2 separate regions of the Homo sapiens genome follow, and region 2 is linked to region 1. The links come from fine-mapping of genetic effects on gene expression. A gene starts in region 1. The other region holds a variant in brackets. All regions are shown on one strand. Distances are between the middles of the regions.

Region 1 (5,377 bases):
CCTTCTTTAGCAGCACAGATAGGACTGCGTTTGTAAGGAGCGTTTTGTATGTTGGGGGTGACGAGGTTGCTGATGAAACTCTAGTGTTCTGTCCCCCACAGCCACATTACTCCCTTTAAGCAGCGATGGGAGTTGATTCTGGAGAGGAGAACTCAGCCGAGTAGAGCAACGCTGTCTTGTCTAGCTGCCCCAGCTGGCTGGAAGGGTCTTCCATGGCTGGAGGAGTTTCCCCAACCAGGACGCCAGAACTGTCTTTTTTTTTTTTTTTTTTTTTTTGAGACAGGGTCTTGCTCTGTCACCCAGGCTGGAAGTGCAGTGGCGTGACCGCAGCTCACTGCATCCTTGACCTCCCAGGCTCAAGCGATTGTCCCACCTCAGCCTCCTGAGAGGCTGGAATTACAGGCATGCGCCACCACGCCCAGCTAATTTTTTTTTATTTTTTGTAGAGACGGAGTCCCACTGTGTAGCCCAGGCTGGTCTCAAGCAATCCTCCTGCTTTGGCTTCCCAAAATGCTGGGATTACAGGTGTGAACCACCCCGTGCCTGGCCCAGAGCTGTCTTTATCATAAATGTTCCACGCCATATTTCATCTCTGCCCATCCCCTTATCCCCATTCCCAAACCTCCAATCTGATATTTGTGTGAGATTTCATTTGGAGGAAGGCCATGTACATAATGGTTTGGATGATGCCTGATAGCCTCCCTGGCTTTGCCAGCCCATAATTCTAAGATGGGAAGAGATGTTGCTGGGGAGAAGAGGCGGAGGCTTCTCTTCTGATTCCTGCCTGGAGCCCTGACTGCAAGGGTTGCTCCTGGCTTCCCCCATTTGAACCCCACCCCTGGCTGGCCAGTGAGGGGAGCATTCCCTACAGCCCCAGGGAGGGAGAGGCTGCCAGCGGCCAGACAGGGCATTGGGCAGATGGCACAGAGCCAGCCCAGCCAGGTGGGGAAATTGAGACCCAGAGAGGGTAAGGGACTTGCTCAAGGTCACACAACCAGACCCTGGCAGATCCCTTTCCACGCTAATTCCTCAGAAGCTCCTGCTGGGGTCTCTAGTGGGATACTTTGGACAGCCCTGTGGGAGTGGCGGCTGGGTTCCACCGGGAGTGGGGTTACTTTGAAGAACAGTAGTCTCTCCTTGAATCCAGATGAGCAGATACGGTTCCAGGGCTCAGCCTGACCCTGAGGCTGTCACAGCTGGGGCAGGGGCTGAGGGTGGAAACTGCCTCTAAGAGCTCAGAGGGCGTTTAGCCTGCCAGGCACAGAGCCTCCACCGGGGACAGAAAGCCAGGAAAAAGGTGTGGGACGTCAGTACGAATCCTGCTCCTTCCATCGTAGACTCTGAAAGTAAAGGTCCAAGCTTTGAATTGGATCTCAGCTGGGGCTGGGGGCTGGCCAAGAAGATTGGGGTGGCCACACATTTGGGCAAGTTTCCCTACTGCCTCCGCAATGCGCCTGGCCAGGGCCCAACTGGAAATCAGAGACCCATGAAACATCAGCTCAGGGAGCATCAGGGATGCATGCTCGTGCTTCAAGAGGAAGAAACCCCGAGAGGAGGCTGGGAGAGAGACTGGTCCAAGGTCACTGGACAGTGAGTGGTGGAGCTGGAGCTTGGACGTGGGCTCTGGACTCTGGATTGTGTGTCCCCGCCACTGTCCTGACATCCATGTGGACAGATGCCCTGATCCCCCTCTGCAGGGGCTGTTCTCTTTTCCTCTCTTTGGGGTGTATAATGTGTTTGTCTTTGTGTGTGTGTGTGTGTGTGTGTGTGTGTGTGTGTGTGTGTGTGTGTAGACATTTTTTATTTTGTCTCTTTACCTCCAAATCCTATCTGCTTCATAAAACTCAGAGAAAAAGTCTATAAGCTCAGTCACCCATTCCAGGATCGCTGTCAGGAAATCCTCGTTCCCATCTCACCCGCATCCCCCACGCTGGAGCTTAAGTCCTTCCAGGTGGGGCTGGCAAGAGTCTGCGGGACTTACTCCAAGAGCCCCGGGGAAGCGGGCTGGGCTGTTTGGGGAGGAATGCTCACCCGGCAGTGTGCAGGCCTGGCAGGGCTGCCTCTAAACCCAAATTGCAGTCCCCAAGCACGTGCGCTTGCTCTGCCTGAGATCTCCAATGATGCTGCTTTGGCGGGAGTACTGATTCTAGCCAGTGATTTATCATCTGTTTACTCAGAGAAACTGCTTGTTCATTTCTGCTGGTGGGAAGGGAAGGAGGGAGGGAGGGAGGTGAACGTGTGTCCTGTGAGCTGCAGAGGTAGCCGGCAGGGATGACTTATACACTCCCCTCGATGGGTGACCTCCATTCACTCTTCCTCCCCGCCTCTCCGCCTGATGAGAAACAGAATGTGCTCCCTCCCCCCTGGGAGGCTTCAGATTCATTTTCTGCTCAGACACCGTTGCTTGCAAAATTCCACCCAGAAGATAAGGGAGGGAGTATCGCTGCAGCGTCCTGCTCTGTGCCTGGTTATATTACTGGATCCTTGTGTTGCAGCCCTAAGATAGAAGGATTGTCTCCATTTCACAGATGAGAGAGAACTGATGCGCAGGAGGCTGAAATTGTCTGAAGTCACACAGCAGGTGGGTAGAGCTGGGACCCAACCCCCGTCAGGCTGGTGCCAACTTCATGCTCTTGGAGCAGTGTTTCTCCAAGTGTGCATCTCGAACCACCTGCATTAATTATAGTTACTTCTTCCTTCAGTCTCTGTTGTTTTCAACAGGGAGTTACTGACCTAGGCATGGCTCCAGGCTCATGGGATTCAGCAATGAGGAAGACAGGTCCTGGCCAAAGGAGGCCAAGAACAAACAAGTATAAGCAATAAGTCAGCCGGGTGCTGTGGCTCATGCTTGTAATCCCAACACTTTGGGAGTCTGAGGTGGAAGGATCACTTGAGCCCAGGAGTTCGAGACCAGCCTGGGCAACATGGTGAAACCACATCTCTACCAAAATATACAAAAATTAGCTGAGTGTGGTGGTGCACCTGTAGCCCCAACTGCTTGAGAGCCTGAGGTAGGAGGATTGTCTTAGCCCAGGAGGTTGACACTGCAGTGAGCCGTAATTGTGCCACTGCACTCCAGCCTGGGCGACAGAGAGAGACCCTGTCTCAAAAAAAAAAAAATTAAAAAGAAACAAGTCAATATCTAACAGGTGAGAGCACTAGGGGGAAAAGGAGAGCAGGGTGAGGTGCTGGGGAGTGACGAGGTTGTATGTGTGTTGCAATTTTAGATAGAGTGGTCAGGATAAACCTTACACAGGTGACATTTGGACTGAGACTTCAAAGAGGTTAAGTGTTTTGCTATTGAACCTGTATTTCCTGCACCTGCTTCAGACCTCCTCATTCAGAACCTGGCAGGGAAATGAGGCCCAGGAATACGTATTTTAACAAATCCTTTATCCACACCGCAATTTGGAAATCGCTGCTGTTTACCCTGGTGCTTCTTCTTCTACCTAACGGGTCAGGAAATATGTGTTCAAATCCAGGAATGGCTTTAGGGATTCAAGAATGAAGCTGGAATCCCGAGTCCTGGTGACGATTCCCTTCATGACTTGATAATTGGCCAATACTTAGTAACTAAACCAGGCAAAATGCACCTATGACTGTGACTGAGTCTGGAAAGCTCTGTGCCAGGGCAGGACATGGATATGCAGTCACAGCGTGACACAGATTACTGAAGTACAAGTTGGTGTCTTGAGGAGTGCATAACTTAGAAGGCTTGGGTTCTACGTCAGGCTCACCTGTGGTAAGCTTGGGCCAGTCATTTGCTTTGTGGAATTTCAGCTTCCAGGTTTGGGAAATGGAGCTGTTAGACCTTTCCCTACTTAGCTTATAACACTGCCACTACTTCTACTACCAGCCAATCTATGTATCCATCCATCTATCCATGCATCCATCCATCCATCCATGCATCCATCCATGCATCCATCTATCCATCCATCCATCCATCCATCTATCCATCCATTCTTCCATGCATGCATCCATCCATCCATCCATGCATCCATCCATCCATGCATCCATCCATCCATCCATCCATGCATGCATCCATCCATCCATCTATCCATCGATCCACGCATCCATCCATCCATCCTCACCACCACCATCAGTATCCTCATTTCATTTTATCAGCATTTCTGGCATGGCCTATATTCAAACCAACAAAATTCCAGTCCAATAAAATAATTTGGACATGCCTAACACTTACTGTAAAGGAATTTGGCCTGAGAAAATAATGAAGAAAAACTGTATAGAGAGTAATTAATTCTCCATACATTGGATATCAAAATCTTTAATCTTGGAAGATTAAATCTTGGAAGTTCTTTTCAATGAAGTCCAAAGGTGGGTTCATGCCACTGGCTTGGGGGAGCCAGAAAAGTGTCTTGTAACTTCAGTTGCGGTGAAAGCTGCTGTGAAAGGCAGCTTCAGATTTCCCCTGATGGCGGGCAGCCCTGCCTCTGTGCCCAGCCCTATTAACTGTTGGCCTCCCAGTTGCTGAAGCCAGCCAACAACATCCCCTGCCATTTGAAGTGCTTATTGGAAAAGCAGATTTCATCTTGGCTGGAGCTCTGAGCAGTTCCTTGTGTGGGGTACTCCCCAGGGCTGTAATTGAACACAAGAAAGCGTCGGCCTACTTTTGGCATTCCTGCTTTCATCTCAAAGACACATTTAAAAATTTATATTTAAAAAATGTCAGGGAAAGGGGCCAGCATGGCTCGTGTGGCCACTGGTGCCAGAACACCCAACACAGCCGCTCCAGGAGCAAAGGCTGCGGAGGATGAGACAGGAGAATTAGGACCATACCGTGTGGCAGTGCTCCATGCCCAGCTTCCGGGAGCTTGCCTGTGTGGCCTGAACAGTGAGGTGCTTTTGAGGCTGGGCCTCTGTCTGATCTAGGCTTTGCAGAGCAGGAGTTTGAGGGTTCAGATCAGGTCCCCCTCACAGCAGTCCAATTGGGTGAGAATTTTCTAAAAGCTGGGGGAAGAGGGTAGTCCAAGACCTACTTGGACACTCACCCCAGGGTCTGGGCAGCCTGGCTAGCAGGAGATGCACTGTCTTCCCAAGCCCCACCTGTTGTGCTGCTGCGGAACGTGGTTCCAAGGGCTTCTATCTACACTGGTGACTGTGGGTGGGAGAAAACCACTGAGGAAAAAGACCTACTGCTCCTCTGGCAGGATTCTGAAAACAGTAGGTGTCTAACGGATGTATGTTAGCTTGCTCTCACATGTGAAAGGATTGCAGTTAAGCACAACGCAACCTTTTTCTACAGCTCTTAGTAAGATCTTCTCTAGGGGCCATTGTAAAGCTAAACCACGAAGCTTCATGGAGGGCTGAAATAAGATAGCATACACTCAGAAGCCTGGTCTCTTAGGGACCACCCGCT
Region 2 (5,377 bases), 25 kb after region 1:
TGATTTTTTTACTCTTCAGTTTTAAGAATTCTTTATATATTCTAGATATGATATGAGTCCTTTTTCAGATATGCTGTTTGCAAATATTTTCTCCCAGTGTATAACTTGTCTTTTCTTCCTCTTAAGAGGGGCTTTTATAGAGCAAAAGTTTGTAGTGTTGATAAAGTCCAATTTATCACTTAAAAGTTTTTTTCTGTCTTTTTTTTTTTTTTGCTTTTGGTCTATGAACTCTTCACTAAACCACAGGTCCTGAAGATTTGTCCTTATGTTATCTTCTGAAAGTTTTATAGTTTTATGTTTTACATTTAAATCTATGGTCCATTTTTAATTAATTTTTGTAACAGGTATGATTTTGGGGTTGAGGTTCCTTTCTTTTTCTTTCTTCTTATTTGCCCAAGAATATCTATTTGCTCCAGTACTGTTTCTTAAAAAGGCTATCCCTTCTCCATTGAATTGCTTTTGCACCTTTGTCAAAAATGAGTTGGCCCTACTTGTGTGGGGCTCATACCTAGAATATCTAGGACCCATTTCTGGGTTCTCTATTCTGTTTCATTGATCTTTGTATCTATTCCTCATGCTGACTTGGTTACTGATGCTATCTAATCAGTCTTAAAATCAGGTAATATGACTTTTCCCAAATTATTTTCCCCAAACTGTTTTACTTATTCAACTCCCTTTGCTTTTTCATATACATTTAGAATAAGCTTGTTGTCTACATCTACAGAAATCTTGCTGAGATTTTGATTGGAATTGTGTTGCACCTGTATATCAGTTTGGGGAAATTTGACATCATTACTATTTTGACTCTTCCTATCCATGACTATCATATGTCAACCATTTACTTAGATTTTTCTTTGATTTCTTTCATTAGCATTTTGATGTTTTCAACACATAAGTGCTGGACATCTTTAGTTATATTTACACCTAAATATTTCATTTTCTTGATTATATGTTATATTAACACCTGAATATTTCATTTTCTTGATTATACATTATATTTTATATTTGTTGTCCATGTATTCATTGCTAGTATATTAAAATAGATGTGATTTGCCTATGTTTGTTGATACGGTTTGGATCTATTTCCCTGCCCAAGTCTCATGTTGAAATGTAATCCCCAGTGCTGCAGGTGGGGCCTGGTAGGAGGTGTTTGGATCATGGGGCTGGCTTCTCATTAATGGTTTGGCACCATCCCCGTTGGTGTTGCCATCGTGATAGTGAGTTGTGAGACCTGGTTGTTTAAAAGGAATGTTATATTTCTTAATAAATCAAAGAATGGAGTGATTTCATGATTAGAAAGGACATGTTGGGCCTGACACAGAGTAAGCCCTAAATGAATGCTCAGGGATGATGAATCTTCTCCCCAGTATCCCACTTTGCTAGATTACCCTTAGTGATAGATTGTTCACTCTCTCTTAAATTCTGGGCATTTGAAATATTTTCCTCTCATGTGCTCAAAACACTTTCATTTCAGCTTCCACTCTGCAGTCCCAGTGTCTGTCCCTAGGGCTACACAGAATGAGCCCGATTCCCCTTCCCTACGAATATCCCTGAACTCTCAAATAGGGGAAGCAGCCTCAGCTTCCCCAGCCAGTGTTTGTAAGAGTGAGATTTCTAGTCCTCTCATGATCCTAGTCTCTTTCCCTTGAGCAGAATTCTGTACCTGCACAGTTCTCTCCAGATGTGATGTCCAGAAAGGTCTCAGCACCCTGGGTGGAGCCTGGGGGACCCCCTTCTTTCCGGTAGGCAGCTTAAGCTCCCATTGGCTCTTCCGGCAGCCAGGTTGCAAAGGCTTATATTAAGCTGGTGGCTGGTGAGCACCCCTGGGCCCTTTTTATCTTTCCCTACATAAATCTGCACACCAGCTTTCTGCAGGTGGCTTCCCATAGCTGCCTTCTAAGGGGAGCTACATCAAACCTCAAGGAATTTACCACCATGAAAGCCTGTCTTGCCCCGAGACCTTCCTCACCTGCAAAGCATAAGCTTGGGCAGGGCTTGGAACCACATGCCCTAAGGCCCTTAAATCTGCCTGTATCTCTGCTCTATAATTTTCAGAAAAATTAACTGCATTATGGGATGGCTTATATTCAAGTCAGGGTCCATACAGCCAGCAGAGGGCAAAAATGGTGAATGCCGTATGGAATCTTATGGCTTGCAAAACAGTTTCTATATCACCTCCTTGGATCCACAGAATAACTAGTAAACTGTGTGAGGCAGGTAGGGAGGGTGGATCATTTCTATTTGACAGGTAAGGAAAGAGAGGTTGCAGGGAGGCTGCAGGCTGCTACGACTAAAAACAAAGAAGAGTCAAAAGTGACAGAACACCACACTCTGTTTATCACAAAACACTGCTTAGCATCTCAGGGCTCTAGGCTTCTATTTGAATTGTCTCAACCATCCTCTGGGTAGAAAGTTTTTTTCTCAGGGCATTTTTGGATCCAGATGATCTGAGCTAATCCCCCTGTCCCCTCACCCCCAGCCCCAAGGAGTGGGCT[A/G]GGAGTACAGCTGTGCATTTTAACGAGGGAGACGGGAGTCTCCAGGCTGCTTTCCAAGAAATTGCTTCTAAAATCATTTGCCTCCAGCCCCAGACAAAAGCTCAGGTATGGAAGCTTGGCTGCTCCTGACCTTTTACATCCCCAGAACCAAGCTGCAGGGAGGAGGGGACGGCCGCACAAAAGGGTCTGGGGAGTGACCCGGCCTGCCTCAGCTACCTGCTGTTTGCCACAATGGGACCCGAGTCCCGGGCTGCCTCTGGAGGCAGGAGAAAAGGGCCGAGATAATGACGGGCTCAGCTACCGCTGCTCTCTTCAGAGAAAGGAGAAGAGGGAGGAGGCAAAACCTCCCGGATAATAAAGAAGTAACAAATGAGGAATAAAAGCTTATGGAAGACATCTTAACCCAGGGATGAAAAAATGTCAACATCTGTGAGGCTTTCTGCACCAGCAGACCCGGTCCTAATGAAAACCCTCGAAAAGCCATTCATCGGAGCAGAGGCAAAAAGGCTACATTTTTCTATGGGGCATCGAGGGCTCGAGGAGGCCACCGTTTCCCTTTCGGATGCTGCTGAACCAAGCACTAATGTTCATCTCCAGCTTTATTAAGGAACCCGGGCAGGAGGAGAATGGAGTGCCGGGACCATCGTTATCCCAAAGTCTGTGAGGTGGGTGGATTTAGGAGCAAGCTAGATGTGTGCACATTGAGGCAAGGAAGAAAAGCCAGAGGAATCAGAGAAAACACTGTTGAACAAGGGTCTCTTTTGACGGGGGCCTTTAGGAAGGACGCAGCTCCAGGAAAAGTAATCCTCTTAGCACCGACTTATGTGTGTGTACAAAACAGGGAAATCAAATCTGAATGTCCTCATTGCATTTGCTAAAATACCTAATGAAAACACAAAGATTCCTTTTTCTGATCTTCACCTTTCATTCAGAAGCCGGAGAGTGGCAGATGTTTGCTTATAAGGCTGTTTTTTTAAAAAATTCAAACTGGGAGTTTGGGGTGGGAGAGGAGCTGACCCTACTCTCTTTCCAAGGGGTGTGGGTTGCAGAACTTTGAGCCTTTGTATCTCCCCCTGGGGTTTTTTACACCCTCCTGCCTTGTTGCCTTTGAGGCAGTACATGTGGTTTTATTTCTTGAGTTTGTGCTCTGTGTTCACCGTTGGAATGTCTCTCCGGAGGCCTCAGTGAAAGAAATCTCAAATCCTGGCCAACAAATGCAGCTTCCTGAAAAGAGTGGGGAAGTTGGTATAAAAAGAAATGCACTCCCAAATTAGTGGCTGTTCTGCAGTTGGGGATCACTGTGCCCTGGCCAGGGAGCACCAGGATAGCCCTCACCCATACCCACATACTTACACACACCCAACATACACCCACACACCTACACCCAGGCATACACTCCCCCAACTTATCCACACACGCGCATCACACACTCCCCCAACTTATCCACACACGCGCATCACACATCTACGCCCAGGCATACACTCCCCCTACTTATCCACACACGCACATAACAGTCCACACCACTCACCCTCCTGTATACACACACACACACACACACGTGTCCTTCCAGTTATAGATACACCTCTCCGGCCAATATACTCGACAGCACACGCATCTGCTTACTCCCAGTCTGAATGGTCGTACTTAGTCTTATGGGCAGGCATCCTCCTTCCCCATCCCTGTAACATACCGGGCTTTCGATCGCATGTGTCAGTTATAACTTGGCTTTAAAATGAAACAAGATGCAAGTGAGGCTGAGTCAAACGTTTGGGGGATTGCCAAGCAGATTTCACCTAAGCTAAAATAGGAGGGTGCACTTTTATTTTTCCTTTCCTGTGTTACAGGGCTACTTTAAATTCAAAACTATTGTTTGCTATTGGGTTACAAAAGGAAGAGAAGTGGAGGAGGCAGCCGTAGAAAGGCTGATTATGGCTCTGGGTCCAGTGTGAGCTGCCCATCTGTGGGCTGGCCCTGTGGTCCTAGGCTGCCAGGGCAGGTAGTGAGATCCCAGGTCCTCAAAGCAGTGGCCCAAGCATCCTCTATCATCATCAGTTGGAGGGAATTCCTATGCAAGGTGTGCAGTGGAGCTGAATGAGCTCTGATATCTTTTGCAAACTTAACAATAATAATATTGAGTGCTAATTATGTGCTAGTCACTACTCTAAGGGTCTTAAATGGATTCTCTAATTTTCCCAGCTCTATGATATGAAATCTCTCATTATGCACATTTTGTAGGTAAGGAAACAAGCCTAGAGTGGCTGGGACATAGGTAGTAGTGACAGAGCCCGTACTGAAACCCAGATGTACCCAACACCAAGCTTAGGTGATTTACCTCGCACTGCAAGACCTCTTAGGAGAACCTGATGTTAAGTGATTTTCTGTTCCCTTCTTTCCTTGGTCAGTAGGAGAGGATTGGGCTTACACCCTTCCTGGTTCATCCCCTAATGCCCTGGCATTGGTCCTCCCTATTCCTTTGGAATAAAGACGGAGCCTGGGAACATCTCTGGTTGGCTTGTCCCTGGGAAGGGTTCCATGTCCAGCCGCCAGACCCCAGATCCACTGAGCGGGTGGAACCTTGTTCCTTGCTGCAGCAGGAGGCACTCAAGTCAGAGGCCCCAGCCATGTGCTTATAGAACCCTTTCGGCAGTCACTCTAAGGCTTGGGGATCATTGGGGAGAATGGCAGCCCTCCAGATGTGTGCATCCATCTGAGAAGCACACCTCCTCAATCTCCATCCCTCATCTCCAGGCCCCCTCTACTGAGAGGAGAACACAGCCCACCTAGACGAAGTGCAGCAGACACCTCTGGTCCTTTTCTCTTCACCATGCCTAATGTACCAGGGATCGGGGCGTCATAACCACAGACCTGGAACCTTGAGAGTC

What was found. PIP is the estimated chance that this variant, and not a neighbour inherited with it, causes the effect. A credible set is the group of variants that fine-mapping cannot tell apart.
Region 2: its variant is the best candidate, but not a certain one, in a credible set for the expression of LINC00887 in adrenal gland (GTEx, PIP 0.52).

The regions. Positions count from the first base shown.
Region 1 is chr3:194,309,805-194,315,181 of GRCh38, reverse strand. It overlaps LINC00887 (long intergenic non-protein coding RNA 887), which reads left to right and starts at 2,378. Exons shown (of 3, transcript NR_024480.1): 1 at 2,378-2,581.
Region 2 is chr3:194,284,311-194,289,687 of GRCh38, reverse strand. No RefSeq gene overlaps it. Among named protein-coding and RNA genes, the nearest start is that of LINC02048, 10 kb to the right of the region's middle. The variant A/G (reference allele first, on the strand shown) is at 2,496.